4 linked regions of the Homo sapiens genome follow. The protein of the gene in region 3 purifies or fractionates together with the protein of the main gene of each other region. This does not show direct contact. Each region holds a gene or a part of one and is shown on either strand. Other genes may lie near its edges. The genes, in order: GXYLT1, METTL9, CANX and EDEM1.

Region 1 (7,988 bases), on a different chromosome or scaffold from region 3:
TGATATTAACTAGCTTAACTGTGATCATTTCTCAATGTATATGTATGTCAAACTATCAAGTTCTATGCCTTAAACATATAGTTTCTATTTATCAATTATACCCTACTAAAGCTAAAAAAATTTAAGTATTATCTACATTTTACAGGTGAGGAAATTAAAACACAGGCATGTGACACAATTTAGGCAAAGTCTCACAGCAACCAGAGCCAGAATACTGAGAACACGGGTTTATCTGACTACAAGACCCATGTATTTTCTGATTATTAAAATCATGGCTTCAAACAGAATACACTAACGGATAAGAGATTCCACTGAAAAACTGTTCCTTTCATTTTAAAGTTCTTACTTCAAGGACTCCAAGTCTTTTGTCGTCATGAAATTCTATACCATGAATAGTTTTTATAAGATCTGACCAATGGAACTTACTGGGTACAAACCTAGATCCCGTGTTTAAAATAAAAAGAGAGAAATAGTTATAATCTTTCAAGTAAGATGTTATCAAAAAAGGCAAAAATGCAATAATACCTAAGTACTACTGAAAAGAGGAAGCTGCTGGCTTGCCCCATAGCCCCATTGCCCACTGAGTCCACTATCTAAACTAGACCCTTATCTTTCTTTACAGAAAGAGCTCTTGTATAACACTCCAAGGATACAGTTTCTAATCCTCCTCCAACACTGATTTGCTTTGGATCTTGGCCAAATGATTTATACATGAAGAGGTTAGGGATTTCTATACCGTATCTCATGGTGGCCAAAAAAGTTAATTTTTTTTTTTTTTTTTGAGACAGGATCTTGCTCTGTCACCCAGGTTGGATTACACTGGTGCAATCATAGCTCACTGTAGCCTTGAACTCCTGGGCTCAAGTGATCCTCCCACCTTAGCCTCCCAAAGTGCTGGGATTACAGGTGTGAAACACCACATTCAGTTAATTTTTTTTTAATTTTTTTATTTTTTGTAAAGATGGGTTGTTGACGAGGCTGGTGTCAAACTCCTGGCCTCCAGCAATCAATCATCCCCACTCAGCCTCCCCAAATTCTGGGATTACAGGCGTGAGCTACCGAGCGTTGCCAAAAGTTGATTTAATTCTATGACATTTCTATAAAGATGTTATAAATGACGATATACAAAATAGAGTCCTGAGGTCTTAGTAATTTGCGTGATCTTAATCTAACCATAGAGTAAAACTTCACAATCCAACTTTTCCACGTTGTTCCCCTGCCCAAATGGTTTCTTATGCGCGCAAATGTGGTGACATGCTGTTCTTCATCACATTTTTACAAAGAGAGATAAATACACCTATAGTTCTAACTTAGATGTACGCCTCATTTAAAATAAAGAGTAATGCTACTCAAAGGACCTAAAAAAGTACAGTATTTCGGTTGACTCAATCCTGACACATAAAACTTAACGTTTCAGTAATGATTATATTGGATGTTTATTAAAACTGAGGCTATTTTCGAAAATTTCAAATAATTTTATTAAAATTAGCTGGTCAAGCAAACAAAATTTGTAAATTTCTGTCACAAAATAAAATATCTAAGACCAAGGCACTAAAAATGTGATGTTAACATCAGTCTAATTTCATTCAATATTTAATTAAAATGTTGCTTCCTTACAATTCTACCCCATATAAAAATAATTCCTTTTCCATAATTGCAAATGCTTCACAATAACATACTAGGCCATAAACAGTTTAGCTTCAACCTGTCATTTTTCACGAGCTCATTCAAGTCTTCAGTGACTGCTTTCTCCCAGGACAGACAACTGAGGGTCCTGATGTAGGAATTACCCTGACTGTAATCAAATCTCAGGGTAAAAACATGACAAGTCCGCTTTCCACGCTGCTCCTCTGCCCAAACTTTCCCCTTTCATTCTGGGAATGACCATCGACTCTCAAAATGATGTTAAACAACAGCCCACAACTGATCTATACTCCCTCTTCCGACAAACCCTATACTTCTCTATATCAAAGCAGCATTTGCCAAGTCTTGGTAGGGAGCACTTCAGGTCATTCCCAGAGAGATGCCCATACATAAGGTGGAAGTGTCCATGTTGCAAGGCAGTGCAAACGCTCAGATTTCAAGCATTCATAATGCGTTGACAGAAACATTTTTTTTCTATTTAAATCTCATGTTGATTCCCACTCTGGCAGTGATTACGTCCTAAGTCATTACGTCGCTTTTTAAATACCAATTTGTCAAGAAAGGTAACTCCATCCCATCCAACAACAGACTTGAGCACGCCAAGTATCGCTCATTTTTCTTAATTTGCTCTAAGTTTCTTAATAAACTGAGTGTTTCCAAAAGAAAATTTCACAACCCGCACAAATGCCATTTCCAAATTTAACTAACCATGGCTAATACTTAGAAGTGTAAGCGTTAACACAGGAAAATCAGCATGAGGGACAAAATACACACACATATACACTCACACACACACACACAATCCTTAAACACTGAACTAGGGCGCCAGCCTCATGTTTAAATATCTCAACTTGAACTCCACTGAAACAAGAGGAAATTCTCACTAGCCAGGCAGCAGTAAGGCTTTTGTGGACACCTCTTATTTTCAAAGAACCCTCTTTTTAAAAAGTTGAAAATTAATTTCTAACTGCTTTAAAGGGCGCATGACTGGGTCAAAAGATAAACACAGAAAGTGTAGGACACTCTCAGGCGGGAGCAGCGCAGGTTTAGCCCCGGCCGGAGGGGAAGGAGGGAAATGAGTGAGGGGTCAGAGACAGGAGGAAAGACGCGGGAGACGCGGCACCCACCGGCGAGCAGCCCGGGCTAGGCCGAGCCCGCGCCCAGCGCCCCGCGCCCGCCGCGTCCCCCACACCGGGAACTGCCCGTACCTGTCCGACACGCCGGGATGCGCTGCGGGGCCCGCGACGCCGGCGCCTCTCACGGCGCCGCGTCCGCCGCCCGCGAGCCAGGAAGCCACCGCGGCCTGCGGCTTCCCGCCACCGCCGCCCGTTCCTTCTTCCAGGGACACGGCGAGCTGGCTGAAAGCGTAAAGGAGCGAGCAGAAGCCGCAGGCCACACACAGCACCACGACGCGCAGGTAGCGCCGCATCGCCCCGGCCGCGCTCCTCCTTCGCCGCCGCCGCCGCGCCCGCCCCGACGAACTGGAGCGGAGGGAGGGGCACCGCGCAGCCGCGGGCGCAACAAGTTCCTCACCCGCAGCCGCCGCCGCCGCCTTGCGCCCGCTCCCTTCCTTCCCTCCCCGCCCACCACCTAGGCGAGCGCAGTCGCGGCTCCGGAGCCGAAGGACTACCCGCCCGGAAGCCTGGACACCGCCTCTGCCGCCGCGCGCTCAAGGGTCAGCGGCAGCGACGCAACCCCGCCCCTCCCCCGGGCGGGAGGGCTGGACGCGCCGGCGCAGTTCGCGTGGGAGGGACGCAGGGCTGGCGCGCAGAGGGTGGTGTGAGTGCGCGGAACGCGGCGCGCCTGAGGGCTATAGCTAGCGCAGGCCGACGCGCAGGTGAATGGGAGCCCTGTGGGTCTCGACCGCCGAGAGAGGGGGAGCGAAAGCCTCAGGGCTCTGGAGGCAGTTGACCTAAATTCTAATTATGGTCCTTCCACATGGTAGTTTGTGACATTGGGCAACCTAAATTCTCTGAGCATGTTTCTTCGTCCCTAAAATGGAGCTACTATCCTCATCATGGGGTGGTTGTAAAGATTAAACTGTTTAACGCTCGAAAACCGCCTAACACTTAGAAGACACTTGACTAGGCCAGTTTCCTCTCCATCCTCCCCCAGCCTCTAAGTTTCTGTGATACTATAATGTGCACGAGCCATTTTCACCCCGATAAGCTCATTGCTTCGTGTGTTTGGTATGCGGACCTTACCTCTTGCCTCCCAGCAGACAGTGAGTTCCTGTAAGGCAGGGCTCTTCCCTTTGACCTTTTTGACCTCCCTCACAACTCATTATTTTCATGTGCAAAACAATTAGTATTCTCTCCACAGAGCTTCTTTCTTCCCCAGTTCTTCTCCCTCTTCTTCTGTGTTTCCACTACGTTCATTCATTGACCATTTATAAAGCATCACTTGTGCCAAGCTCTGTGTGAGTACCTAGGGGTATAAAGAGGCCTAAGTGGAGCGTGGGTGGGACAGCGGATACTTGTAAATAAGCGCAACGCAGTGATAACAGACTTAAGATCCAGGCCTGTAAGGGTGTGGGCATACACACAAAGGAACAATCAGTTCTATCTGTGAGTATGGTCAAGAGAGACTTCATAGCAAAGGTGGCGCTAGAGTCTTGAGTCGGGTAAGGGAAGTAATTCCAGGCTGAAGGATCAATAAACAGGCTCTTGTGTAGGGAACTGTTGAGAAGTTTGATACCACCAGCTAAGTGAATGCAAGAGAGGGTATGATGAGCGATAAGCGCGTAGAAGGGGCCAGATATTTGAGTGCTTTGTTTAGCACACCAAGGAGTTTGAATTTAATCTGCAAGACATTAGTGAACCATTGAAGGGTTTTTAAATAGGGAAGTAACATGATCACAATTGCATTTTAGAGAGCAGATTCTGGCTGTAGTGTGGAGGCTGAAACAGAGAGAGGAGAGATTGGAGGCAGAAAGCAGCACCAGTGCCAAAAAGTGAGGGAAGGGATACTTAAAAATACACACACACACGAACACACATTCATGGGGAAAAATCATGCGTTTAACTGCTGAAATTGCATCTGGGGCGTTGAAAAGTTTGGCCATGAGATACAAGGTGGGGAAATGCTGCGCAAAATAGTAGCAGTCTCCATTTGGATCCTTGGCTCCCTATACCAAAAAAGTAGTGGTTCTGTGACCATGATAAAGTCACTAAACAAATTTAAGGTTCAACTTCCTCCCCTTCTTGCTTTACCTGATAAAAAATGAACATTAGCATGCTATCAAGATGTGTAAAGAGAATGAGAACATACATTTATGCATTCAATAAACATTTATTGAACATATTCTACATGCCAGACAAGGGGCTCTGATGCAGAGTATTCAGAAATAAAAGGAGTGTACTGCTCTCAAAGGGAAAACAGGCAAATAGAAACCACAAGTATACTAAATTAATACTTCCACTACACCTTACACTTCTTAGAGAAATGAAGATAAACTTAACGAAGTATCCAGAATGATAGGAAAAGCATTGATAAGAATGAAAATACCTTTTGAGAGAAAGCTGAAAGATATGGTACCAAGAAACTAGAGTAAGAGCTAGTACTCAAAAAATGTTTAATTTAAAAGATACTAACTATAACTCTTCTCTATTTCAACAAAGAAACTAAACGTAGTAATAATTAAGAATAACTCCTTGACCCACAGATGGTTAAAATAATGGAATGGCAAAAAGAGAAGGCAAGCAGTTTTCATTTCTGCAACAATTTTATGAAAAGAGCAAATCAGGAAAAATAGCCACTCATTTATTGACGTCAGGGTACTGGACCATATCATCCTTTTAGGTTCCTTCTAATCCTGTAATTTTCTGTTGAAAAATTATATAAACCATTCCAAAAATAGAAATGATTTTTCTATTACTCACACATCATCTTAACTGGCTATCTTGGAGGAGCTGTGTGCATGCTGGCATCCCCTCTAATTATTAACCGGATTTACACGTTGCATTTTGATATTCCTAAAATTAAGTTAATGAAAGCGCTTTAACATATTTGATGTCACAACAGTTAGGTGTTTCTTCCATGTACTGCGTGAAGGTATGTATTCCTAAATCTATTTTTTTCTCTCTATACCAGTCTCTTAATTCTCTAATGATAGACTGATATCCAAATTTTTAATCCATGTTGACCTTCATTCATCGTATCAAATAGGTAAATTTAGGTGGAGAAAAAGTAATTTAAAATTATCAATATTTGTTGTTTAGGAGATAGAGATCTCCATGATCTGGAAAATTCTCTGATTCAGAATTAAGCCACATCTCAATAATTTTATATTTAAAAGATTAATCTTGATTTTTCGTATAGCTCTTAGTACATCCTGGATATATAATAGGCGTTCAATTAATGGGCGTTTTCTTTTTTTTTTTTTTTTTTTGAGATGGAGTTTTGCTCTGTCACCAGGCTGGAGTGCAGTGGCACAATCTCAGCTCACTGCAACCTCCGCTTCTCGGGTTCAAGTGATTCTCCTGCCTCAGCCTCCTGAGTAGCTGGGACTACAAGCGCGTGCGTGCCACCAGGCCCGGCTAATTTTTTGTATTTTTAGTAGAGACGGGGTTTCACCATGTTGGCCAGAATAGTCTCTATCTCCTGACCTCGTGATCCACCCACCTCGGCCTCCCCGAAGTGCTGGGATTACAGCGTGAGCCACTGCGCCCGGCTCCCATTTTCATTTTTTTAAAATGTCTTCTCTAAATCAGTCTAGAGCAGATTTGGGGGCCTGCTCAGCATTTTCTTTACACTTCTACCTTAAGTACTTGATTCCTTAAAAAAAAAGACATGGAGAAAGTTAAATTCTACACCTTTTCAGAGTAAAATTCAAAAACTCTTTTTGCAGGAAAAAAAAAAAAACCTTTTTGCATGACTTCCATTTTATAAAGGTCTATGCATAATGGAATTTAATCCTTGGCTGGGCACGGTGGCTCACACCTGTAATCCCCGCACTTTGGGAGGTGGAGCTGGGAGGATTGCTTGAGGCCAGGAGATCAAAAACAGCTTGGGTAATATAATGAGACCCCTCTTTCTACAAAAAAAAAAAAAAAAAAAAAAAAAAAAAAGTTTAATTTAATCTTTATAGCATTCCTATGAAGTAGGAGATGTTATTCTATTCTAAAAAAAAAACAAAAAAAACAAAAAAAACAAAAAAAAACGAGCCTGATAGAGATGTGACCACAGATAGCAAGAAAAATTTAAAAATAAAAACAATCCCCCCCCAAAAAAAGCAAACAGCCTGAAATTCAGAAATGTTCATTTACCACATGGTTAATAATAAGATCCAAAATTCAGATAGAAATCCTCTAAGATTTCTATTTCTTGTTCTTTTCCATTACGCCATGCTATCTCACTAGGAACAAATAAGCACTAAATGGAGTGGTACAAATTCAAATTGAAAGCAAAAAGGGAACCAATGTTATATGAAAATCTTTCAGACTGATCTTAGAGTCTAAAACAACATTTACAATCAGTGAAATGCAAGTCAGATTAGTAGCAGAGCACAAAGAATCAGAAACTCAGGCTAAAAGTAAAATTCATTCTCTCCGCTAGTGGGCTTCTAGTATATTTCCCCATTTTCCACAGTCCAATTCCTAGAGACTTTGTTGGACTGGAGGAAAAGTTGGAAAATAATGTTTAGTTTGCACAAAAATCTCATTTTATGTGTTCATTCAGACCAGTAACTGTAGGGAAAGAGTCAGAGGAAGGATGAAAGAGTAAAGTGATGCTCTTCATTCTTAAAAACACGTTGCTACAGGCCACAAGAGTAGAAAAAGAAGTAGTGAAAGATTAAAAAATAAATAAATAATTTAAACTGAAAAAAGAAAAGCGGTGGAAAACTAATTAATGAGGATGCCTTAACCTCCTATATGATACCAGAATTTCGCTGACATTTCCATCTACAAGGTAGGGAAAGTGTACAGTGGGCTAGGTGGGAAAGAGAACGAGGAATATCCTCTGGATGTCCCTCTATTTCTCCCTGGTTCAAACTTCAAGAACCCTGCATACCGATTAGTAAAACAGAATATATTATTTTTAAAAAATAGTAACGGCCAGGCGCAATGGCTCATGCCTGTAATCGCAGCACTTTGGGAGGCCAAGGCAGGAAGGTCACTTGAGCTCAGGAATTCAAGATGAGCCTGAGCAACATGGTGAAAACCCGTCTCTATAAAAAATGCAAGAATTAGCTGGGCATGGTGCTGTGCATCTGTGGTCCCAGCTACTCGGGAGGCTGAAGTGGGAGGATCACTTGAGCCCAGGAGGTGGAGGTTGCAGTGAGCCAAGATCACACCACTGAATACCAGCCTGGCTGACAGAGTGAGACTCCATCTCAAAACAAA
Region 2 (7,486 bases), on a different chromosome or scaffold from region 3:
TGTGGTGGCGCGTGCCTGTAATCCCAGCTACCCGGGAGGCTGAGGTAGGAGAATCGCTTGAATCAGGGAGGCGGAGGCTGCAGTGAGCCGAGATCACATCACTGCACTCCAGCCTGAGGACAGAGCCAGACTCCATCTCAAAACAAAACAAAACAAAACAAAAACTATACAGAAAAGATAAAGCCCAGGACATCCTATTAACATTAAGAGCATGGTTTAAAAAAAAACCACTCTCGATCCTCAATCTCTCACTTTCATACACACGTACACAGAACACAGAGAACATTTTCAGTCCTCTACAATGTTGTTATCTCTAGAAAGGGGGAGTTTTTATATCAAGAGTCTTTGTTAGCCACACAATTAGGCAATTTTACAAATTACTTACTCCTGCTTGGTTATACCAATCAGAATGTGGTAGGTGAGATATGTTATGATAGAGACAGGTAAAAAAGGAAACATAAAAAAAGGATCTTTGGTAAACAAGTCTTTAGTAATGTTGAGCAGATACAGTAAGATAGCTCAGAAAATTCTAAAAGTATAATGAGGGTTGTTTTGAAAACCTCATTAGCATAATGATATTTAGAGCATTTCTGAATAGCAGAATTTTAAAAACACAAAGCACTTAGCTGCATTTTCTTTTCAATCTATATTTTTGTCAAACTAAAGCCTCTTCCAAATAGCAGCCTAACAAACTTCCAGGGACTAGTCAGATTCCTTACTGGTGCAGGTGTTTCATTGCACTAAATACTGTTTGAAATAAGTAGAGCATTCAGGCTTTAAAATCACTTTGTTGTACTAAGTCAACTGTAATAGCAATTTTGGAAATTCAATTTAGCTCATTCCAAGAGTTTCCAAACATTACTAAGAAGACTACTTTCAGAACAAAAATGTCATCAATTCCCATTCTAAAAAATGGAAATGAATAAAGAAAGGACTATTTGTATATATTAACGCCTTAGCTAAGCAGCCAATTTAAAGACACAAATTGTAAAACACAAATTATATATTTGATTTTTAAAAACAAAACAACAAAAAAAATCTGATGTCTATCTGCAATGAAGCAGAAGCCAAACATCATCAGCATGTTCTAATCTAGAATAATCTCACTAAACCTACCTCAGAATGAGTTTCAGATAGGTAGCCTCTGTGTTGGTAATTTTGGAAGAGAAATATATGCTCATAACACAAAAAGGTGACTAACACTAAGACAGTTAAATCTATACCTATAGAAGCTCAAGTGCATTCTTACTTCTGTTTTGTGATTTTTATTTGTAAACTCACTCAGTTCCACTGATGAAGACAAATTGCTTAGCCCCACTAAAACTGCGTATTAGCCCAGGAATCCTAACAAGTTGTCAGAATTTTCCTTTTTCTAAAACAGTATTTCTAAACCTAGAATGAGGGTATCTATTCAAGTGATTATTATTTTCAAGAAAATGAGTTAATACTTCCAGAAGGATGTAAAATATATTTCTCCTTAGAGAATGATAAAGCAGTCAGGTGCAGTAGCTAACATCTGTAATTCCAGCACTTTGGGAGGATCGCTTGAGCCTAGGAGTTTGAGACCAGCTGGGGCAACACAACAAGACCCCATCTCTATAAAAAATTAAAAATAGCCAAGGATGGTGGCACACACCTGTAGTCCTAGCTAAGCTACTTGGGCAGCTGAGGCAGGAGGATGGCTTGAACACAAGAGTTTGAGGTTACAGTGAGCTATGATTGTGTCACTGCACTCCAGCCTGGACGACAAAGCAAGATCCTGTCTCAAAAAAAAAAAAAAAAAAAAAGGCCAGGCATGGTGGCTCACACCTATAATCCTAGCACTTTGGGAGGCCAAAGCGGGCAGATTGCCTGAGCTCAGGAGTTCAAGACCAGCTGGGCAACACAGTGAAACCCCATCTCTACTAAAATACAAAAACTTAGCTGGGCGTGGCAGCATGCGCCTGTAGTCCCAGCTACTCGGGAGGCTGAGGCGGAGGCTGCACAGTAAGCCGAGATGGCACCACTGCACTCCAGCCTGGGCAACAGGGAGAGATTCCGTCTCCCAAAAAAAAAGATGCCTTGCCATCTCGGGTTGGGAGAGCTCTAAACTTAGGAAATAAGCAATCTGTATTTTGATAATTCCTAAATAAAAAATGAAACACTAACAATATAAAGAAAACTGTCTTGCTGTAAAAATCAAAACCACATCCTTTAGTTTTACAATTGGGTTTTCTGGCATAAACAATGACAACTTGCGAATACAAAGGAAAAACCTGGCCATTTTCTGTTTATTGACCTATTTTTGAAATGCAGAAACTTTGGCTGGGCGCAGTGACTCACACCTATAATCCCAGCACTTTGGGAGGCCAAGGCGGGCGGATTGCCTGAGTTCAGGAGTTCGAGACCAGCCTGGGCAACACAGTGAAACCTTATCTCTGCTAAAATACAAAAAATTTAGCTGGGTGTGGCGGCATGCGCCTGTAATCCCAGCTACTTGGGAGGCTGAGGCAGGCTAATCACTTGAACCTGGGAGGTAGAGGTTGCAGTGAGCTGAGATTGTGCCACTGCACTCCAGCCTGGTGATGGAGCGAGACTTTGTCTCAAAAAAAAAAAAAATTACAGAACCTTTATTTAAAAAGGTGTGTTTTGCTCATGCCTGTAATCTCAGCACTCTGGGAAGCCAAGGCAGGAGGACTGTTTGAGGCCAGGAGTTCAAGACTGGCCTGGTCAACATAATGAAACTCCTGTCTCTACACACACAACACACAAAAACACACACACACACACACACACACACTCTCTCTCTCAAATTAGCCAGATATGGTAGCAGGCACCTGTAGTCCCAGCTACTGAGGAGGCTGAGGTGAGAGGATCACTTGAGCCCGGAAGTTCAAGGCTACAGTGAGCTATAATCACGCCACATGCTCTAGCCCAGGTGACAGAGAGAGACCCGTCTCTAAAAATATATATATATAAATTAATAAAAAGCCTGTTTTTCATGGCCCAGATATTGAAGAGAAATAGAAAATAGCTCTAATCTCAAAAGGAAGAAAAAAATGTAAAATTCAGCTGAAAGTCTGCCTTGCCATCTTGGATTGGGTGACCTCTAATCTTAGGAAATAAAGATACTACTTCCTCATTAAAACCTCAAACTGCACCAATAGTCACAAAATTTACCACTTTTGTGAAAATGTTTTCACTTCATACTAATATTATGAAAGGAATGCCAATCAGTATGAATTTCCCATGCAGGTCAAACTGCAGATTTTTGGCTTATGTGCTGTATATTAGGGAAAAAATTAAACCAAGTATTTTTTATGTGGTAGATATCTTTACATACCATGTACACTCCAGATATATTACTAATTTCAAACATCTGAAGTTTCCCTGAAAATTCCATTTAGGCACTTAGCATCAAAGCAAAAGAAGGCTGGGGCGGTCAATCATCTGAAGATGGGTTTAACACCTTCCTCTTCGACCCACTTCAAAGCATGGATTTTTTTAAGGGGGGGAGGTGGAATCAGATTAGGAATTCAGCCTGACTTAAGCCACTGTTATAACAAAGGTCAAAGCATTCTAAGTTTTGAAATGCCGAATTAATCTCTAACTGAAGGAAAACATGTCAATTATCACCATGCAGACCCACCAGAACCTTATCTGAGACAGCTTGCTAAAGCTAAGGGGCTTTCAAATCACTCAGTTCAAACTCACACCTTCCTTATGTCTCTTCCTATAACAACCCTAACAGCAATTTAAACACTGACAGTGATAAGGACTTAAACAGTTCAAGCTAGGAAGGTCGATCTCCCTAAGCTGTAACTCAACTTCTAAGGCGTAGCTGTGCCTGATTACACCAGAGACTATACCTATTCCTTTCCTTCCATATAAAAATCCCACAGCGTATCTGTTCACAGAAATCTTCCCTTCTCCAGGCTAAAAATCTCCATGTTTTGCAAATGCTCAAACCAGTCCTGCTCCAAAAGCTACACTGATGCTCTATCTCTAGGATTAATCTGTAAAAGTAGAAACATGTGGATAGGAAAGTGAGTGATTACATAATTTCTTCTCCTTTCTTTCTAAGGCTAACCAGACTTCCAAAAATATCACAGAGAAAGGCTGACTCCAGCTCTACCTCCCTGATTCTGCACTGAGCCAATATATAGAAATCTCCCAATCAATAAATCATACTGAAATAAGAATACCCTTCTTCCAGCCGGGTGCAGTGGCTCACGCCTGTAATCCCAACACTTTGGGAGGCCAAGGCAGGCAGATCACGAGGTCAGCAGTTTGAGACCAGCCTGGCCAACATAGTGAAACCCTGTCTCTACTAAAAATACAAAAAAAAAAAAAAAAAAAAAATTAGCCGGGCATAGTGGCATGTGCCTGTAGTCCCAGCTACTCAGGAGGCTGAGGCAGTAGAATTGCCTGAATCCAGGAGGTGGAGGTTTCAGTGAGCTGAGATCACGCCACCGCACTCCAGCTTGGGCAAGTGAAACTTCATCTCCAGAAAAAAAAAAAAGGCCCTTCTTCCTAGTCTTTCAAACTCCAGATGACCTTAAAACCAAGATTAACACTGATGACTATAAACTAAAAGCAAAACAAAACAGAAAATAGCAAGTATTGTCAAGGAGTGGAGAAACTGAAACCCTTGTACTACATTGCTGGTGGGAATGTAAAATGGTGCAGCAGCAATGGAAAAGTATTGCAATTCCTCAAAAAATTAAACCCAGACTTAGCCATGTGATCCAGCAACTCCACTTCTGGGTCTATACCCAAAAGAAGTAAAAGTAGGGGCTCAAGTCGGTATCTGTACACCCATGTTCATAGCAGCATTATTCACAACAGCCAAATGGTAGAAACAACCCAAATATCTACTGACAGATAAATGGGTAAACAAAATGTGGTACATGCATACAGCGAATTATCATTCATCCTTAAAGAAAATTTTGGGCCAGGCGCAGTGGCTCACACCTGTAATCCCAGCACTTTGGATTACTTGAGGTCAGGAGTTCGAGACCAGCCTGGCCAAATAGTGAAACCCTATCCCTACTAAAACTACAAAAAAATTAGCCAGGCATGGTGGCATATGCCTGTAATCCCAGCTACTTGGGAGGCTGAGGCAGGAGAATTGCTTGAACCTGAGAGGTAGAGGTTGTAGTGAGCCGAGATCGTGCCACTGCACTCCAGCCTGGGTGACAGAGCAAGACTCCATCTCAAAAAAAAAAAGAAAAGAAAAGAAAAGAAAATTTTGGCCCATGGTACAACATGAGTAAACCTTGAAGACATTATGCTACATGCGATAAGCCAGTCACAAGGAGCTAATGTATATAATTCCTCTTATACGAAATACCCAGAATAGTCAAATTCATAGACAAAGTAGAATGGTGGTTGTCAGGGGTTACGAGGAGGGAAAAATGGGGAGTTATTGTTTATTGGGTACAGAGTTTCCGTTTCGGAAGACAAAAATTTCTGGAGATGAATAGTGGTGATGATTATGCAACAATGTAAATGTACTTAATACCACTGAACTGTACACTTAAAAATAGTTACAACAGTAAATTCTATGCTATGTGTATTTTACCACTACTTAAAAAAATTTTTTTTGAGAATGCCACATTCTGATTAGGGAAGAAGTCCCTTCTTCTGATCTGCCTTTTCCAAGTTGTCTCTCGCTAGTGCTTTTCTTACCTATAGTGCCAACCCCTCCGCTCCAGAAAAATACTGCTACCAGAAGATTATTTCTCTACATTTCCAGTTAATTATGTATGAGATGATTTTTTAAATTTCTAATCATGGAAGATCATTTTTTATTCATATCCTTTAAATAATATACTTTCAAGAAGAAATGCATCTAAAACCAAGAAAATTATACCTGTATTTCTTTTTCTGAAGCTGCCATATCATAGTTTCAGAAAGCTCAGTGGCATAGATTTCTTCAAAATGAGGGCTCATGATTTTTGTGACTTCTCCATCTCCAGCACCTAAATCAAGAAGTCTGTGGGTTTTCCAGTCTGGATTAATTTTAAGCAGTCTCTGAAACTGATCTGGTGAAAACACAAACATTGAGCCTCTTCCTAGCAACCTGAAAGAAAAAAAGGACAAAAATGGAAGTGTCTATGCAAATTAAGCACCCCTCACATACACACACAAAGTGAATATAGTGACTCAGCACCAACAACCATAATCACTTATTACATGGTTAAGATTTTTTTTTTTTTTAGACAAGGTCTCACTCTGTCACTCAGGCTGGAGTGCAGTGGCATGATCTCGGCTCACTGCAACCTTCGCCTCCTGGGTTCAAGCGATTCTCCTGTCCCAGCCTCCTGAGTAGCTGGGATTACAGGCATGCACCACCACACCCGGCTTATTTTTTGTATTTTTAGTGGAGACAGGGTTTCACCATGTCGGCCAGGTTGGTCTCGAACTCCTGACCTCAGGTGATCTACCCGCCTCGGCCTCCCAAAGTGCTGGGATTACAGGCATGGGCCACTGCGCCTGGCCTAATTTTTTTTTTCTTTTTTTTTTTGAGACAGAGTCTCGCTCTGCCGTCGCCCAGACTGGAGTGCAGTGGCACGATCTCTGCTCACTGCAAGCTCCGCCTCCCAGGTTCATGCCATTCTCCTGCCTCAGCCTCCTGAGTAGCTGGGACTACAGGCGCCCGCCACCACACCTGACTAATTTTTTGGATTTTTAGTAGAGAAGGGGTTTCACCATGTTAGCCAGGATGGTCTCGATCTCCTGCCCTCGTGATCCACCCGCCTCTGCCTCCAAAGTGCTGGGATTACAGGCATGAGCCACCGTGCCCAGCAAAGATATTATCTTTTATGTCATTTCTATGATTAGAAGACAAAGTTAATAAAATAAGAAAATGCCTCCAGATACCATTTGTCTTTGGAGTTGCAAATAATGCCCCAAAAAAGCATGGGAGGAGGGAAATAAAAGGTGGAAAGTGGAAAGGATGACAGGGGAAGGAAGAAGAAATAAGTAAGAGATGAATGTGAAGAACTTAAGTCAAAATAGGAAGGAAAAGTGGAAGGAGTAACAGAAAACATGTTTATCAGTTGAAAAAGATGACAAGCTAACACAGCCAGACCACAGTAGCAGAGAAACCAAATAGGAAAAAAAAGTGATTTCAAATATGGAACTAAACCATGGATCAGGAAAAAAGAGCTTTAGTATAACAGATTTTTAAGAGACACTAGAGAAAAGAGGGAAAAGAGTGGTCCTTGTGATGTCGGTTAATATGCATTAAAGTAGATTCGTACTTATGTCAGTTTATATGGTTACAACTGTCTGGGTCCTATTATTTCTAAAGGTCCTAGAAAACACTCAAAACCATAGTGATGCCTTTGAAAAAAGAGACTGAGGGGAGTTTAACTGGAGATTGAAGAGAACCCTCAGAAAAGCAACTATAGGTCCAGCCAAGTCTCATGGAAGCATCACTCTGGGAAATAAAGCGCAATCCCTATTTAGGACTTGTTTTCTAGCTCTGAAATTCTAGTTT
Region 3 (7,486 bases):
AATTATCAGAGCTTACTCAACCAACATTTCGTTGTTCAAGCCACATGGAATATATGAAATGCTCCCTTACACTTGAAGACAGTTCCCCAAGACTCACCAGTCATCTGGCTTGACAGCTTCTGGATCTGGGATTTTTGGTCTTTCATCCCAATCCTCGGGCTTCCGGTCTTCTGGGTCCTCAATTTCACGTGAAGGATTTACAGGAGGAGTCATGTCATTGAGCAGATTTCCACTATTCACCACAGATTGGTCAACCAGTATTTCAAAACTATTATCTGGATTCAAGACTGAAAGAAACATTAAATGGAATTAAAAGTACTTAATTTTCCAAGCTCCCTTTACCATAATACAAAAGATCATGACTTCTAACGTGAAGCAGCAGAAGTCTGACCTGAGGCTTTGGGGTAAGAACAATGCCTGGCTCCTGGGGTCTTGGGGAAGCTAACGCCCATTTCCTTATGCACGAAACATAAATGATTAGTCCCTCGGCTTTCTAAGAATTACAGCAAATGATAGTTAAAATCTTTAACACCAAAGACTTGACTTATAGACACTAAAAAAAAAAAACAAAAAAAACAAGAAACTACATAAACTAACACAATTATTGGGCTTACACATATACACCAGTGAGAAGACAAATACGTGGACTTACAACTACTTCCCAGTACAAAAGGTCCATTTCTTCATTTTTAATAGAGCTGGTATTATTACGTTACTGAAATTACACAAACCTCCAATTTATTAAAACGCATGTCCACTCATGATTCTACTTTCTACTTTTTAACTCCCATGGAGAATGAAAAAACAATTTTAAATCCATAAAAGCATTTTTTAAAATTTTATTTTATTTTTTTGAGACAGAGTCTCGCTTTGTCTCCCAGGCTGGAGTGCAGTGGTGTGATCTCGGCTAACTGCAACGCCCGCCTCCCAGGTTCAAGCGATTCTCCTGCCTCAGCCTCCGCAGTAGCTGGAACTACAGACGGCCCCGTGCCACCATGCCCAGCTAATTTTTTGTATTTTAAGTAGAGATGGGGTTTTGCAATGTTGCCCAGGCTGGTCTCAAACTCCTGAGCTCAGGCAATCTGCCCAACCTCAGCCTCCCAAGGTGTTAAGACTACAGGTGTGAGCCACCGTGCCCAGCCACATGGGCCCCATAAAAGCATCTTAAGTGTGATGTATATTAAAGCCCAGATTCCACACCTAGATATCTAATACACAGGAGACTGAGTTACAGCACATCCAAACAAGGAATCCTATGCTGCTGTGTCAGTGATAATGAAAATGAATATTTCTGTGAGGAAGAACTTCACACTCTTTTGTTGTTAAGAAACGGGTGTGGTGGCTCATGCCTGTAATCCCAGCACTTTGGGAGGCTAACGCAGGTGGATCACTTGAGGCCAGGAGTTCGAGACCAGCCTGGCCAACATGGTGAAACCCTGTCTCTACTAAAAATACAAAAACTAGGTGGGCATGTTGGTGCACACCTGTAAACCCAACTACTTGGGAGGCTAAGGCACAAGAATCGCTTGAACCTGGGAGGTGGAGATTGCAGTGTTTCTGTCTCAAATAAAAAAGGGCCGGGCGCAGTGGCTCACGCCTGTAATCCCAGCACTTTGGGAGGCCGAGACGGGCGAATCACGAGGTCAGGAGATCGAGACCATCCTGGCTAACACGGTGAAACCCCGTCTCTACCAAAAATACAAAAAATTAGCCCAGCGTGGTGGTGGGCACCTGTAGTCCCAGCTACTCGGGAGGCTGAGGCAGGAGAATGGCGTGAACCCGGGAGGCGGAGTTTGCACTGAGCGGAGATCGCACCACTGCACTCCAGTCTGGGAGACAGAGCGAGACTCCGTCTCAAAAAAAAAAATAAAAATAAATAAAAAAATAAAAAAGTTAGATATAGCATGTAAAGTTGTATATGTGTATATACACATATTGACAAATATATATCACAATGCTGATGTTTAAGATAATTTTAAGTGACTTCTTTGTGTATGTTTTTATTGACATATCGTACTTGTACATATTTTCGGGGTACGTGTGATATTTTGATACATGTATATAATGTGTAATGACCAAATCACAGTCATTGGACGGGCCCAGTGGCTCATGCCTATAATCCCAGCACTCTGGGAGGCTGAGGCAGGCCCATCATTTGAGGTTGGGAGTTCGAGACCAGCCTGACCAACATGGTGAAACCCCAACTCTACTAAACATACAAAAAAATTGGCCGGGCATGGTGGCGCATGCCTATAGTCCCAACTATTCAGGAGGCTGAGGCAGGAGAATCGCTTGAACCCGGGAGGCAGAAGTTGCAGTGAGCTGAGATCAGGCCACTGCACTCCAGCCTGGGCAACAGAGAGAGACTCCCATCTCAAAAAAACAAAAAGAACAAAACAAAACAAAACAAAACAAACAAATCACAGTAATTGAAATATCTGTAACCTTAAACATTTACCTTTTCTTTCTATTTTATAGAGACAGAGTCTCATTCTGTGACCCACGCTGGAGTGCAGTGGCCCAATCATAGCTCACTGCAATCTCGAATCCTGGACTCAAGGGATCCTTTTATACCACAGCCTCCCGAGCACCTGGGACTAGAGGTACATGCTACCAAGCCTGAATAATTATTTTTTTGTAGGAACAAGGTCTCACTATGCTGCCCGGGCTGGTCTAGAACTCCTGGCCTCAAGTGATCCTCCCACCTCAGCCTCCCAAAAGCGCAGGGATTATAGGCCTGAGCCACTGCACCTGGCTCCATTTACTTTTTCTTTGTATTGGGAACAGTACAATTCTCTTCCAGCTCTTCTGAAATACACCATAAATTGTTCTAACTATAATTTCCCTACTGTACTATCAAATATTAGAATTTATTCCTTCTACCTTATTTCTGTACCAATTAACCAACTTGTCTTCAACCCCTCTCCCTCGCTTTAAGTGTTTTCTTTTTGCTTACTTATGGCTTCTGAATTTCTATACCTTAAATATGTATTACTTTTGGAAATAACAAAAAAAGGTTAAGCTGGGCTCAGTGGCTCACGCCTGTAATCCTAGCACTTTGGGAGGCCGAGGTGGGCGGATCAACAGATGGCCAAGAGTTTGAGATCAGCCTGGCCAACAAGGCTCTACTAAAAATACAAAAATTAGTTGGACATGGTGGTGTGTGCCTGTAATCCCAGCTACTGGGGAGGCTGAGACGGGAGAATCACTGGAACCTGGGAAGCGGAGGCTGCAGTGAGCCAAGATGGCGCCACTGCACTCCAGCCTGGATGACAAAGCAAGACTCCGTCACAAAAAAAAGAAAAAAAGGTTGTTATATTCTAGGCTGGGTACAGTGACTCACACCTGTAATCCCAGCACTTTCAGGAGCTGAGGCGGGCAGATCACTTGAGGTCAGGAGTTCGAGACCAGCCTGGCCAACATGGTGAAACCCGGTCTCTACTAAAAACAGAAAAATTAGCTGGAAAAAAAAAAAAATAATAATAATAAAAAAAAGAAAAATTAGCTGGGCATGGTGGCACAAGCCTGTAATCCCAGCTACTCAGGAGGCTGTGGCAAGAGAATCGCTTGAACCCGGGAGGCAGACGTCACAGTAGGCCAAGATCACGCCACTGCACGCCCACCTGGGTGACAGAGCAATACTCCGCCTCAAAAAAATTAAAAAGGTAGTCCAGGCGCGGTGGCTCACGCCTATAACCCAGCAGTTTGGGAGGCTGAGGCGGGCAGATCACCTGACGTCGGGAGTTTGAGACCAGCCTGACCAACATGGAGAAAACCCATCTCTACTAAAAAAAAAAAAAAAAAAATTAGCCAGGCGTGGTGGCACATGCCTGTAATCCCAGCTACTTGGGAGGCCAAGGCAGGAGAATCGCTTGAATGCAAGAGGCAGAGGTTGTGGTGAGCCAAGATCACACAATTGCACTCCAGCCTGGGGAACAAGAGTGAAACTCCATCTCAAAAAAAAAAAAGGTTATTATATTCTTCAGAAAGAGGCATGCCTATTTATGATCTCAAACTAGCAGGAAAAGCTTCAATAAACAAACAAACCAAAAAAAACCCTGTATCAAAATGATTCAACTCAATTGTCAATTGTCCAGGTATTGGAGCATCCAAATAAGTTCAACTACAAGATACTTCTGAAAAACTATTTTTATTGGATTTATGTATAATTATAAATATAACTTATTCTATTATTCAACATTTCTCAACAACAACAACAAAAAAAAGGAAGAAATTAGATCAGCAAAGCTCTTTGTAGAAAAAAAAAAAAAAAACACCTTTTTTTTTGGAGTGGGGGACGGAGTCTCACTGTGTTGCCCAGGCTGGAGTGCAATGGCATGACCTTGGCTCACCGTGACCTCCGCCTCCCGGGTTCAAGTGATTCTCCTGCCTCAGCCTCCTGAGTATCTGAGATTATAGGCGCCCACCACCCCACCCGGCTAATTTTTGTATTTTCAGTAGAGATGACGTTTCACCATGTTGGCCAGGCTGGTCTTGAACACCTGACCTCAAGTGATCTGCTCGCCTCAGCCTCCCATCGTGCTGGGATTACAGGCATGAGCCACCATGTCCAGCAAAAAATACCAATTTTTTTTTTTTTTTTTTTGAGACAGAGTCTTCCTGTCGCCCAGGCTGGAGTGCAGTGTCACAATCTGGCTCACTGCAACCTCCGCTTCCAGGGTTCAAGCAATTCTCCTGCCTCAGCCTCCTGAGTAGCTGGGATTACAGGCACCCTCCACCATGCCCGGCTAATTTTTGTATTTTTAGTAGAGATGGGGCTTCACCATGTTGGCCAGGCTGGTCTTAAACTCCTGACCTCAGGTGATCCGCCCACCTCGGCCACCCAAAGTGCTGGGATTATAGGCACGAGCCACCATGCCTGGCCAAAAACACCTATTCTATTCTTAAAATTATCTCGAACCTCAGTTCCTGTGGAAAAGAAGTTTTTTGGGTTTTTTGTTTTGTTTTTTGAGACAGCATCTCACTTTGTCACCCAGGCTACAGTGCAGTGGCAAGATCATGGCTCACTACAGTCTCGACTTCCTGGGCTCAAGCAATCCTCATACCTCAGCCTCCTGAGTAGCTGAAACTACAGGCACATGCCACTATACTCAGTTAATTCTTAAGATTTTGTAGAGACAGGGTCTGACTATGTTGTCAGGCTGGTTTGGAACTCCTGGACTCAAGCAATCCATCCGATTCAGCCTCCCGAAGTGTTAGGATTACAGGTGTGGGCCACCATACGTGGCCAAGAAGCTTCTTTTAATGCTGACAAATTAAGGTCATTTCCCAACTAAGATACTAAAGTGAAGAGATTCTTTTCTTTCGTGGAGGGGGTACAGAATCTTCCTCTGCCACCCAGGCTGGAGTGCAGTGATACAATCTTGACTCAACTGCAACCTCTGCCTCCTGGGTTAACGTAATTCTGCTGCCTCAGCCTCCCGAGTAGCTAGGATTACACCAGCTACTCAACACCACGCCCAGCTAATTTTTGTATTTTTAGTAGAGACGGGGTTTTACCATGTTGGCCATGCTAGTCTCGAATGCCTGATCTCAAGTGATCCGCCCGCCTCAGCCTCCCAAAGTGCTGGGATTACACGCATGAGCAACCATACCAGGCTGAGATTCTTCTTGTTTGGAGGCTGGGGTACTCTCCAGATATACAATCTTTTTTTTTTTTTTTTGAGATGGAGTCTTGCTCTGTCTCCTAGGCTGGAGTGCAGTGGCGCGATCTCGGCTCACTGCAAGCTCTGCCTCCCGGGTTCGTGCCATTCTCCTGCCTCAGCCTCCCAAGTAGCTGCGACTACAGGTGCCCACCACCACGCCCGGCTAATATTTTTGTATTTTTAGTAGAGACGGGGTTTCACCATGTTAGCCAGGATGGTCTCGATCTCCTGACCTTGTGATCCACCCGCCTCGGCCTCCCAAAGTGCTGGGATTACAGGTGTGAGCCACCGCGCCCAGCCTTTTTTTTTTTTTTTGAGATTGAGTCTCACTTTCGCCCAGGCTGGAATGCTGTGGCACAATGATCTTGGCTCCCTCCCAGGTTCAAGCAATTCTCCTGCCTCAGCCTCCCAACTAGCTTCGGTTACAGGCGTGCACCACCATGCCTAGCTAATATTTGTATTTTTAGTAGAGGTGAAGTTTCAACATTTTGGCCAGACTGTTCTCGAATTCCTGATCTCAGGTGATCTGCCCATCTCGGCCTCCCAAAGTGCTGGGATTACAGGCGTGAGCCACAGTGCCCGGCCAGATATACAATCTTTAAATTAAATGGATGATATATATGTAATACCATAAGCCCCCAAACTAATGCTTTTTCTTACTTAGTGTGTAAAGATGTGTTTTCTTATCAGTAAAATAGGTCTTCAGATCTGCATCTGGCCTCTTAGCATGTTTTTCTTCATAGATACCCGTTTTGGGGTTTTTGTGTCGGAAGATGAAGTGCAGTTTATAGTCCTCTCCACATTTATCTGGACCAAACATAATCGTATAAGGGGTCTTGTCATGGAACTGATCCTTCAAAAACAAAAAAGGATTATTTGAAGTCACTGTACTCAAAGTGTTCAAAAGCAACGTTTCAAAAGTGTATGATAATTCCTCTTATAAAATTCCAAATATATTAGTGACAGTTAAAGGAAAAGCTAACTACAAGTTTGTTTAGTAAAAAGGAATAACCAGCAATCATCAGTAAATTTAAAATAACGTTTAAGTGTCTAAAAAAAAGTAATGCACACATCTAGACAGTTATTGCTTCCTCATAAAACAAAGAAATAAGCTTGCCAAAACTAAAACTTACACAGAAGCAAAACCAGAAATTCAGATAAAAACAGTTGGTAACAACTTTGTAATTTACACTTCAAATAAAAAGCACGTTAGCGTCAAAGTCAATTTTCCCAACTCATCAAAAGAGTTAAACAGCAGGGGAGGAAGCCTTTATTTTCACAATTATTACAAAATTCTCTTTTTTTTTTTTTTGAGATGGAGTCTCGCTCTGTCGCCCAGGCTGGAGTGCAGTGGCGCAATCTCGGCTCACTGCAAGTTCCGCCTCCCAGGTTCATGCCATTCTCCTGCCTCAGCCTCCCAAGTGGCTGGGACTACAGGCGCCTGCCACCACGCCTGGCTAATTTTTTGTATTTTTAGTAGAGATGGGGTTTCACCATGTTAGCCAGATAGTCTCAATCTCCTGACCTCGTGATCCGCCTGCCTTGGCTTCCCAAAGTGCTGGGAGCTAGGATTACAGGCGTGAGCCACTGCACCCGGCCCAATTACAAAATTCTTACAAGGTAATAGTGGGTGTCCAGCCACATTCCAGAAATGGGAATTACATACCAGGTTGAGTTCTGGTGTTTTAGAAAGCAGTTTCACATAGGCACCACCACATTCTATTCCATTTTGGAAATTAACCTCATACCTAATATCAGAGAGAAAAGCAGAAAACTGTATGGCATTTTGAAAGATCGAAACTCTCTTAATGTATTTCCTC
Region 4 (7,486 bases), on a different chromosome or scaffold from region 3:
TGCCATGCTATCTTCTAACCTGGAAATCCTGCCCTCTGTTTCTATGTGGCCATACTGAGGAAAGTGGCAGGGGGCACGAGAGTGGCTGTATGCACGAGGCAGAGCGGTGAGATGGAAAGAGCACCAGACAGGGAGTCAGGACCACAGTTCACACCTCAGCTCTGCCACAGCCATCGCCATACTTTGAGCAAGTCGCCTGACCTCTGTGTAGGCTGTAGTTCTTGTGAGGGAAATGATGAACATATGAACATTAGGTAATACCAAAGGGTTCGTCCAGGTCCAGAAATTCTCTCTCTCTACACACACACACACACACACACACACACACACACACTCACTCACTCATGTGCCTGAGGATGTGTGTATGGACAGAGACAAGGCTGAGCTGCAGGTCTTGGCTAAGATCACATACATCAAGAGAAGTGAGAAGCCATTATGAACACAGCTCTCTTCCTCAGAGGCGTCTTCCCCGACCACCTGTAGTTAGATACAGAACTAACACTGGTTCTGTATCAATCGTTACCAGGATTTCCCACAGTTTGTAATCATAAGTTCAGTTCTTGGTTTACTTGACAAATGACTTTTCAACAAGGTTGGAAACCATGAAAGAAGATAGTAATATCCTTTGGTTCTGACAGCGTTTGCATCCTGGGAATGCACAATGTCCAGCACATAGCTTTAGCCAGTAAGTACCTGTCAGATGGAAGACTATGCGAATGCTTGCTCTAAGCAATACTAAATATTCCTGGGTTCATCTTGCAACACACATACCAGATACAAATATTTACAGGTCTCACTGAGAAAGAAGCTCTCCATCCGGTCTTCTGTGGACTTGTCAATGACGTGATGCAGCGTGGCGTACCCACACCTACAAAACAATCATCTGGTCAGTCCTGCCTCTCTTCCTTCCCACCTGCTGATTCACTTAAGAAGCAGAAACATTCTCTTATCAGAATAATCAACCAGTCATCCAACACCATATGAAACTATGTTTACATTGAGGGGCTCTCCTTTTTTATAGCCTGGGTTGTTTGCAAATTTACTTAGCAAGTGCTTTTGGCTGCTAAATTATCAGGTGAGTTAGAGGGTGTGGGCGTGGTGGCGGGGTGCTGGCCAGAAGCATAACGTGGCACCAGGAAAATGACCGGCAACAAATGTAAAAGGACTAATTTAAATTTCTAGTCCTAATACTTGTAGAATTGACTTATTATTGAGAATTGACTTATTATTTGAGTATTGACTTATTATTTAAGATAGTACTTAAAAAAAAAAACTTACAGCAGGTAAAAAAAAGCATGTCACAAAATTGAAATATAGAGTATGTTTCTTATATATACATATATACACACATCATATATAAAAATATTTAAAAGATTATAAGTACATACATTTCAATACTGACTACAGTTTTCTCTGTATGTGGAGATTACAGTGATAATATTCTACTGCTTTATATTTTCTGTACTCCCTAAACATTTTAGCGTATATGTTATTATATAACTAGGGGAAAGAAGTTAGAATGAACACCCATAATCTGCTAGAACCTCACGGAAAAGAAAGGGCAGTTCTCAGTACAATGGAAAGGTTCTACTACACCAAAAGGTAAGCAATTTCCCTGTAAATGTAACATTAATGACCTGGTTCTATAAATTAAAATGCAAACTAGGATATTTCCCCAAAACAATTTGAAATAAATTAAAAGTGGCTGACAGAAAAAGGTAGGAACTTAGAAAACTGACTTGACTTTTGTGTACTTTTCCAGACTCTGCAGAATATCCATTCCTACATGGAGGTAGAAGGGATTCTTGGTTGCCTAGAGAGAACACGAGAGAATGTGATCCAGCATGGGCTTGGAAGACATGCCATCGACAAACATCATGGTGACTGCGGGGCTTCCCCATGGAGACGAGTCGCCAGCCAAAGGAAGAAACAGGGCCCAGGTCATTTATCTTGCAGGGTCACAATGGTTAGAGGACTAAGGTACTCCGTCAGTTCACATCAAAGAGTACCTGTGATTTGGTTAACTTTAGCCAGGGGTAAGACCATCTGTTCCAGGGTAGAACAATAGTCTACTTTGGTTGCCATCATGATTAGAAACAAAACAATGCCCACGCTGACAGCACCATATCTGAGAACAAATCCAATTTCTATCTTGCCTCAGAACTCTCCAGAAACTTAAGACACAGGCACAGGAAAGAGGACCTTGCCGCCATTCCAGTTATGGCACCATGAGGAAAGGCTGATGGGAACAAGACTTTCCGAAGTATGAAAGGAGGCCGCCACCCTTTCCTTTCTAATCACCCTGAGAAATCAGTCCTCAGTTGCCTACTCTTCTCACACATACTCTTAGATGGTTTTACTAGAGAAAAACTTCTCTGGGAAGATAAGCCTTTATCCAACAAACAGTTTAAAAGTTGGGGATCTTTAATTCATGCCTAGTGCCAGATTGCAGCAACAAACAACAAGGTTAGCAGTCTCCAGATTAAAAGTGCACAGGGTGTGGCTTCGGAGGGTAAAGCTGAAGAGTGCAAGACATCTCTGTCAACGTGAAGGAGAAACGGAAAACATGAAAGAAGCAGTGACAGAAACAAAGAGGAGTAAGCTCACAGGCCACAGGACTAAGCTTAAGAGAAGAAATCAGCCAGTAACCGGCACGCCATCCTCCGTGTACAGTCTTTCTACTGGGCTCAGAAAGGCCAAACAGGTGGCTATTATCTTTTCCCTTTTTTGAGAGGTTACCTAAAACTCATGAAGTCCCTTTTTAGGCATGAGGACTACTACCAGTTTCACAGGATTTCTTTCCCCTTTTTTCATCTGAAGCAAACGGCAAGGATTTGGTATAAAAAAATTGTTGAATAAATAAATTCAAATCTTAGTGTTAGCTCCACTACCAGAGTTTCTAAAACTCCCCACTACCAGAGTTTCTAAAACTCAGGCCCTGCTTGCTAGGGCTGGCCCACGGTGGGCATCTGTTACCGGCCTACTGAATTTCACCAAGGCCAGTTTCTTGGTGAGTTAACCACTCGTGCTGCTGTGCATGTGGATGGAGGAGGACTCTCAGTGTGTATATATGTATGGCATACACAGAAGTATAAATACCTGGCTTCAACCGTCAGGAAGAAGACATTTCACAGTTAAAGTCACATTCCCTCTACCACTGAAGTAATTTCACAAAGGATGAACACTATTACATATATATGTGTGTGTGTGTGTGTGTATATATATATACACACACACACACACAAACACAAACATTAAACAAAAACAGGCATCCAGATGAATCCAAGATGATTTCCTTTACAACCAAGAAAATGAATTTTCTTTTTGTCTGAATAGTTGTTACACAGACCGGGGCTCCACAGTACACTGATGCAGAATTGCATCCTAAAAACGGGTCTTCTGGTCACATACATTTGGAAAACACCTTAGTACCAAATCTTCCTCATGAATACTTAAAGATGTGAGTTATAAGTCCTACGGTAAAAACATGATTCAGCTTTGTAGAATATTAGGTTAAAAACATATTTGACTGCAGATGCCTTCTCTGTCCTGTGAAGTTACGAATGACACTGAACACTAACAAGACTACGGATAGGGGGTAACTCAATCAGAGTCACTATGAAACAACATAACCCTAAATCACTCAGCAAATGTTCATTAAGAATGAACTGCTGGGGTCAGGGGAGGCAGTGAAAGGAAAAAAAAAAAAACACAACTCTAGTACCTGGTAGAGGAGATATGTGGATTCCACTAACTCTGGTCTCAGTGGGTAGAAGAGAACGTCAGGGGCCTGCAGCTGCCAGTTATATCTCTCAGGGAGGGCACCATATCGTTTCCATATGGCATAGTAGAAGGCATGAAGGCAGATGGCATCTTCCACATCTCCTATCAGCACCTAAGGAGAGGACACAGGTCATCAGGCTGAGATACCATTCCTAGAGTGACAAGACATGGCACAAAGGGCCTGCCTGGGCTCTCCTCTGCCCCCGAGTTCTTAGTTGACCTACACATACGGTTAAAGACAAAACCAACCCAAAAGTGACAACCCAGACAAATAAATGCCCTCCCTATCTGGCCACTAATGCCAAATTGATGTGAGCTGCACACAGAAAAAGAGATTACGTGTACTCATGAACAAGGAATAAACAACTGAGCGATGGATTATCCAAAAATCTCACACAGCCCAGCACAGTGCCTCATGCCAGTAATCCCAGCACTTTGAGAGGCTGAGGCGGGCAGATCACCTAAGGCCTGGAGTTCGAGACCAGCCTGGACAACACAGTGAAACCCCGTCTCTACTAAAAGTACAAAAAATTAGCCGGATGTGGTGGCAGGCGCCTGTAATCCCAGCTACCCTGGAGGCTGAGGCAGGAGAATCTCTTGAACCCAGGAGGCGGAGGTTGCAGTGAGCCAAGATTGCGCCACTGCACTCCAGCCTGAGCAACAGAGGAAGACTTCATCTCAAAACAAAAACAAACAAAAACAAAAATCACACACAGTCACTTCTCAAGCACGGTTTTGCACTTGTGTGGAATGGCTCTGTTCAATATTCTGGAGACTAATTTCTCAAACAGAGAGATGAAGACGTATAGTGTCAGTGACCTCCCAAATCCAAAGGAGACAGAGAATGCTCAGGGTATTAAAAAAGAAAGAAAAGGAGGGAGAAGCCCTTTCTGGTGATTGGTTATTCTTAGGAAATCTGATGGCAAAATACCTGCAGTCCAGGGAAAAAGGCCTGCAGAGAGTCAATCCAGGTGTTCATCAGCTGCCCACTGAACATGTTCACGTTGACATAGAGTGGAGGGTCTCCTTCTCCTTCATTGCAGGCTTCCCGCCTGCAAACCCAAGCAGCACATTCAGTGGTGAAAAGAAAGCTCACTGACAGATCTCTACCTCTCCAGCAGCTGCTGGTAGTTTCATTTAAACGGAATTAACATTAATTTTTTCTCCTAACTCATTCCTTAAACCTCTGCAGACAGACTGCCTTTAATTATCTACATTAGACTCTAGCAGAAGATAATATTTTCCACAGGATCAAAGTTCCTAACGCAGCCATTGTAATATGTCAGGATTTCACAGTATTCTGCAGAAAGCACTTTGAGCTTTGGGTTTAAGAGCCCTGCCACATAAGAGAATTCAGTATATAGTATGGGCCTATGCTGGATTTCACCTGAGCAGAAAAGCTTGGTTCTTTTGGTACAAAGAGTCTCTTCTCTAGTAATGTCCTACAGCATGGGCCTGGAGAAATGCATCAGAGCAAGACCCTTGGGGATTACTGCTCAATTTAGTTTGTGGCTTTGAAAAGCAAAAATAAATAAATTCCACTCAAAAGGCCCCTTACTTAAACATAGCACATACAAGTGGTTCCTACAACAGCAATGTAGAAATGGACCCAAGAAAATCCAAGCAGGAAGCTCAGTAGCTATAACTTGCACTGAAACTGGACACTTAACATAGAAATACATACAAAGAAAGATCTGGGGGCCAGGTGTGGTGGCTCACACCTGTAATCCCAGCACTTTGGGAGGCCGAGGCGGGTGGATCACGAGGTCAGGAGTTTGAGACCAGCCTGACCAACATGGTGAAACCCCATCTCTACTAAAAATACAAAAATCAGCCAGGCAAGGTGGTGCACGGCTGTGATCCCAGCTACTCAGGAGGCTGAGGCAGGAGAATCGCTTGAACGCAGGAGGCAGAGGTTGCAGTGAGCCAAGATCGTACCACTGTACTCCAGCCTGGGTGACAGAGCAAGACTCTGACTCAAAAAAAAAAAAAAAGAAAGATCTGGGAAAGAGAGTGACACTACGTAGAAGCCACTGTAGCTTCAAATGGCTCTCTCTCTCCTGTCATCCTGGAGGAACAACAGAAAATGGTGAATAATGTTTTAAACAAACTCAGAGAGAAAAAAAAATGTGGTAACTGTCCTTTCTATCACCAAGTATAAAAACCAATCCTAACAGTTCTTTGTAAAGTATTAGAACCAAAACATTGTCCTGCATTGCAGATCTATCTGCAATTAAAGCCACAGTTAAACACTGGGATGTGTCAGCCCCTGTAGTAGCAGCAAGTCTCTAAGACGGCCCCCGAGAACCTCCATCCGTGCGAGCCACACGCTTGCACAGCCCCCTCCCACACTGAATGTATCATTTTGATCTGGGTGACTAATGGTCTGGCAGAAGTATTGGTATATCATTCCCAGACTAGTCATGAAAGCACTGTGGTTGCCATTTTGGCCTCTTTCTTTTTCTCTCAGATCACTCACTCTGGGGGAAGCCAGTGGCCATAAGCTACCTACAAAGAGGCCCCTTGGCAAAGAACTGAGCCCTCCAGCCAACAGCCAAAGAGGAACTGAAGACTGCCAGCAACCAAAGTGAGCCTGGAAGGGGATCTCCCAGCACCATTGGGCCTTAGCATGGCTGTGGCCCTGGCCACCAGCTTGACAACAACCTCAGGAGAGATCCTGGGCCAGAATGACTGGCTCAGCTGCTCCTGGATTACTGTCCCTAAGAAACTTCATGAGATAATGCTTGTTGTTTTAAGCCACTAGGTTCTGGGGTACTATGCTATGCAGCGACAGAAAGATAACACAGCTCTTTGCCCCCAGATGACTGACAAACTAGGAGAGGTGGTAAGGTGAGGGCAGAGATAAACAGACCCTGTGATTGTGTGTTAAAAAAAATACAAACGCTTCAGAATGCATTCTATTTGCTTTACAAGGCAACAGAGGAGATGTTAGGGAGACATACCCTCTTCTTAAGTAGTTCTGAATACTCTGATATGCAGCATTAAACATTTCTAGGTCTTCTTTTTCTCCAAAGAGAATGTAAGATTTCAAGAGGTATTCATAGAAGGAGTCCAGCCCGGCACCCAGGCCACTCTGCTTTCCAACCCAGTGGCCCGTCTGAATGTTCACGACATTGCCTGCAAAAATAAACAAGGCACTTGAGGTCCCAGCTGTCTCATCGGGGAGGACATGAATGGAGACAGGCCTCCTACTCCAACCACACTGCTCCTCAGCACCTTTATCCTTGGCATACAGGAGAAGGAGGTGGTTGCTTGGACCTAACATTTTTATCAGTCTTATCACTAACTTAGCCTAGACATCTTCTAAATATATAGCATTTACTGACACAAACATGGGGATAAACATTTAATGCAAAATAAAAATAGGTTTCTCATTTTGCTTTTCCAGATTGACGATGCATTTCAAAACCCAAGAGTTTTTCACAGACTTTAACCCAGTACTGCCATTCCTGGGAATTTATCCAAAAAAAGATGATTTTAAAAAGAAAAAGTGGCCAGGCATGATGGCTCACACTTACAATCCCAGCACTTTGGGAAGCCGAGGCAGGTGGATCGCTTGAGCTCAGGAGTTCGAGACCAGCCTGGGCAACATGGTGAAACTCTGTCTCTACCAAAAATACAAAAAATTTGCTGGGTGCGATGGCAGGTGCCTGTAGTGCCAGCTACTCAGGAGGCTGAGATG

Evidence for each region.
Region 1: the proteins of CANX (region 3) and GXYLT1 purify together in Homo sapiens (affinity purification with mass spectrometry; 4 studies listed by BioGRID and IntAct, with this or other methods). This does not show direct contact.
Region 2: the proteins of CANX (region 3) and METTL9 purify together in Homo sapiens (co-immunoprecipitation; 3 studies listed by BioGRID and IntAct, with this or other methods). This does not show direct contact.
Region 4: the proteins of CANX (region 3) and EDEM1 purify together in Homo sapiens (affinity purification with western blotting; 6 studies listed by BioGRID and IntAct, with this or other methods). This does not show direct contact.

The regions. Positions count from the first base shown.
Region 1 is NC_000012.12:42,141,574-42,149,561, forward strand, and holds the start of GXYLT1 (glucoside xylosyltransferase 1), read right to left. Parts: upstream 3,302-7,988; 5' UTR 3,074-3,301; coding exon 2,853-3,073; intron 1-2,852. UniProt on the Homo sapiens protein: Glycosyltransferase which elongates the O-linked glucose attached to EGF-like repeats in the extracellular domain of Notch proteins by catalyzing the addition of xylose.
Region 2 is NC_000016.10:21,616,443-21,623,928, reverse strand, and holds part of METTL9 (protein-L-histidine N-pros-methyltransferase isoform 1 precursor), read right to left. Parts: intron 6,065-7,486; coding exon 5,855-6,064; intron 1-5,854. UniProt on the Homo sapiens protein: Protein-histidine N-methyltransferase that specifically catalyzes 1-methylhistidine (pros-methylhistidine) methylation of target proteins.
Region 3 is NC_000005.10:179,708,906-179,716,391, reverse strand, and holds part of CANX (calnexin isoform d precursor), read right to left. Parts: intron 7,415-7,486; coding exon 7,333-7,414; intron 6,520-7,332; coding exon 6,327-6,519; intron 494-6,326; coding exon of another isoform or gene 392-493; intron 288-391; coding exon 98-287; intron 1-97. UniProt on the Homo sapiens protein: Calcium-binding protein that interacts with newly synthesized monoglucosylated glycoproteins in the endoplasmic reticulum. It may act in assisting protein assembly and/or in the retention within the ER of unassembled protein subunits.
Region 4 is NC_000003.12:5,204,502-5,211,987, reverse strand, and holds part of EDEM1 (ER degradation-enhancing alpha-mannosidase-like protein 1), read right to left. Parts: intron 6,922-7,486; coding exon 6,747-6,921; intron 4,836-6,746; coding exon 4,715-4,835; intron 3,896-4,714; coding exon 3,725-3,895; intron 1,814-3,724; coding exon 1,740-1,813; intron 869-1,739; coding exon 772-868; intron 1-771. UniProt on the Homo sapiens protein: Extracts misfolded glycoproteins, but not glycoproteins undergoing productive folding, from the calnexin cycle.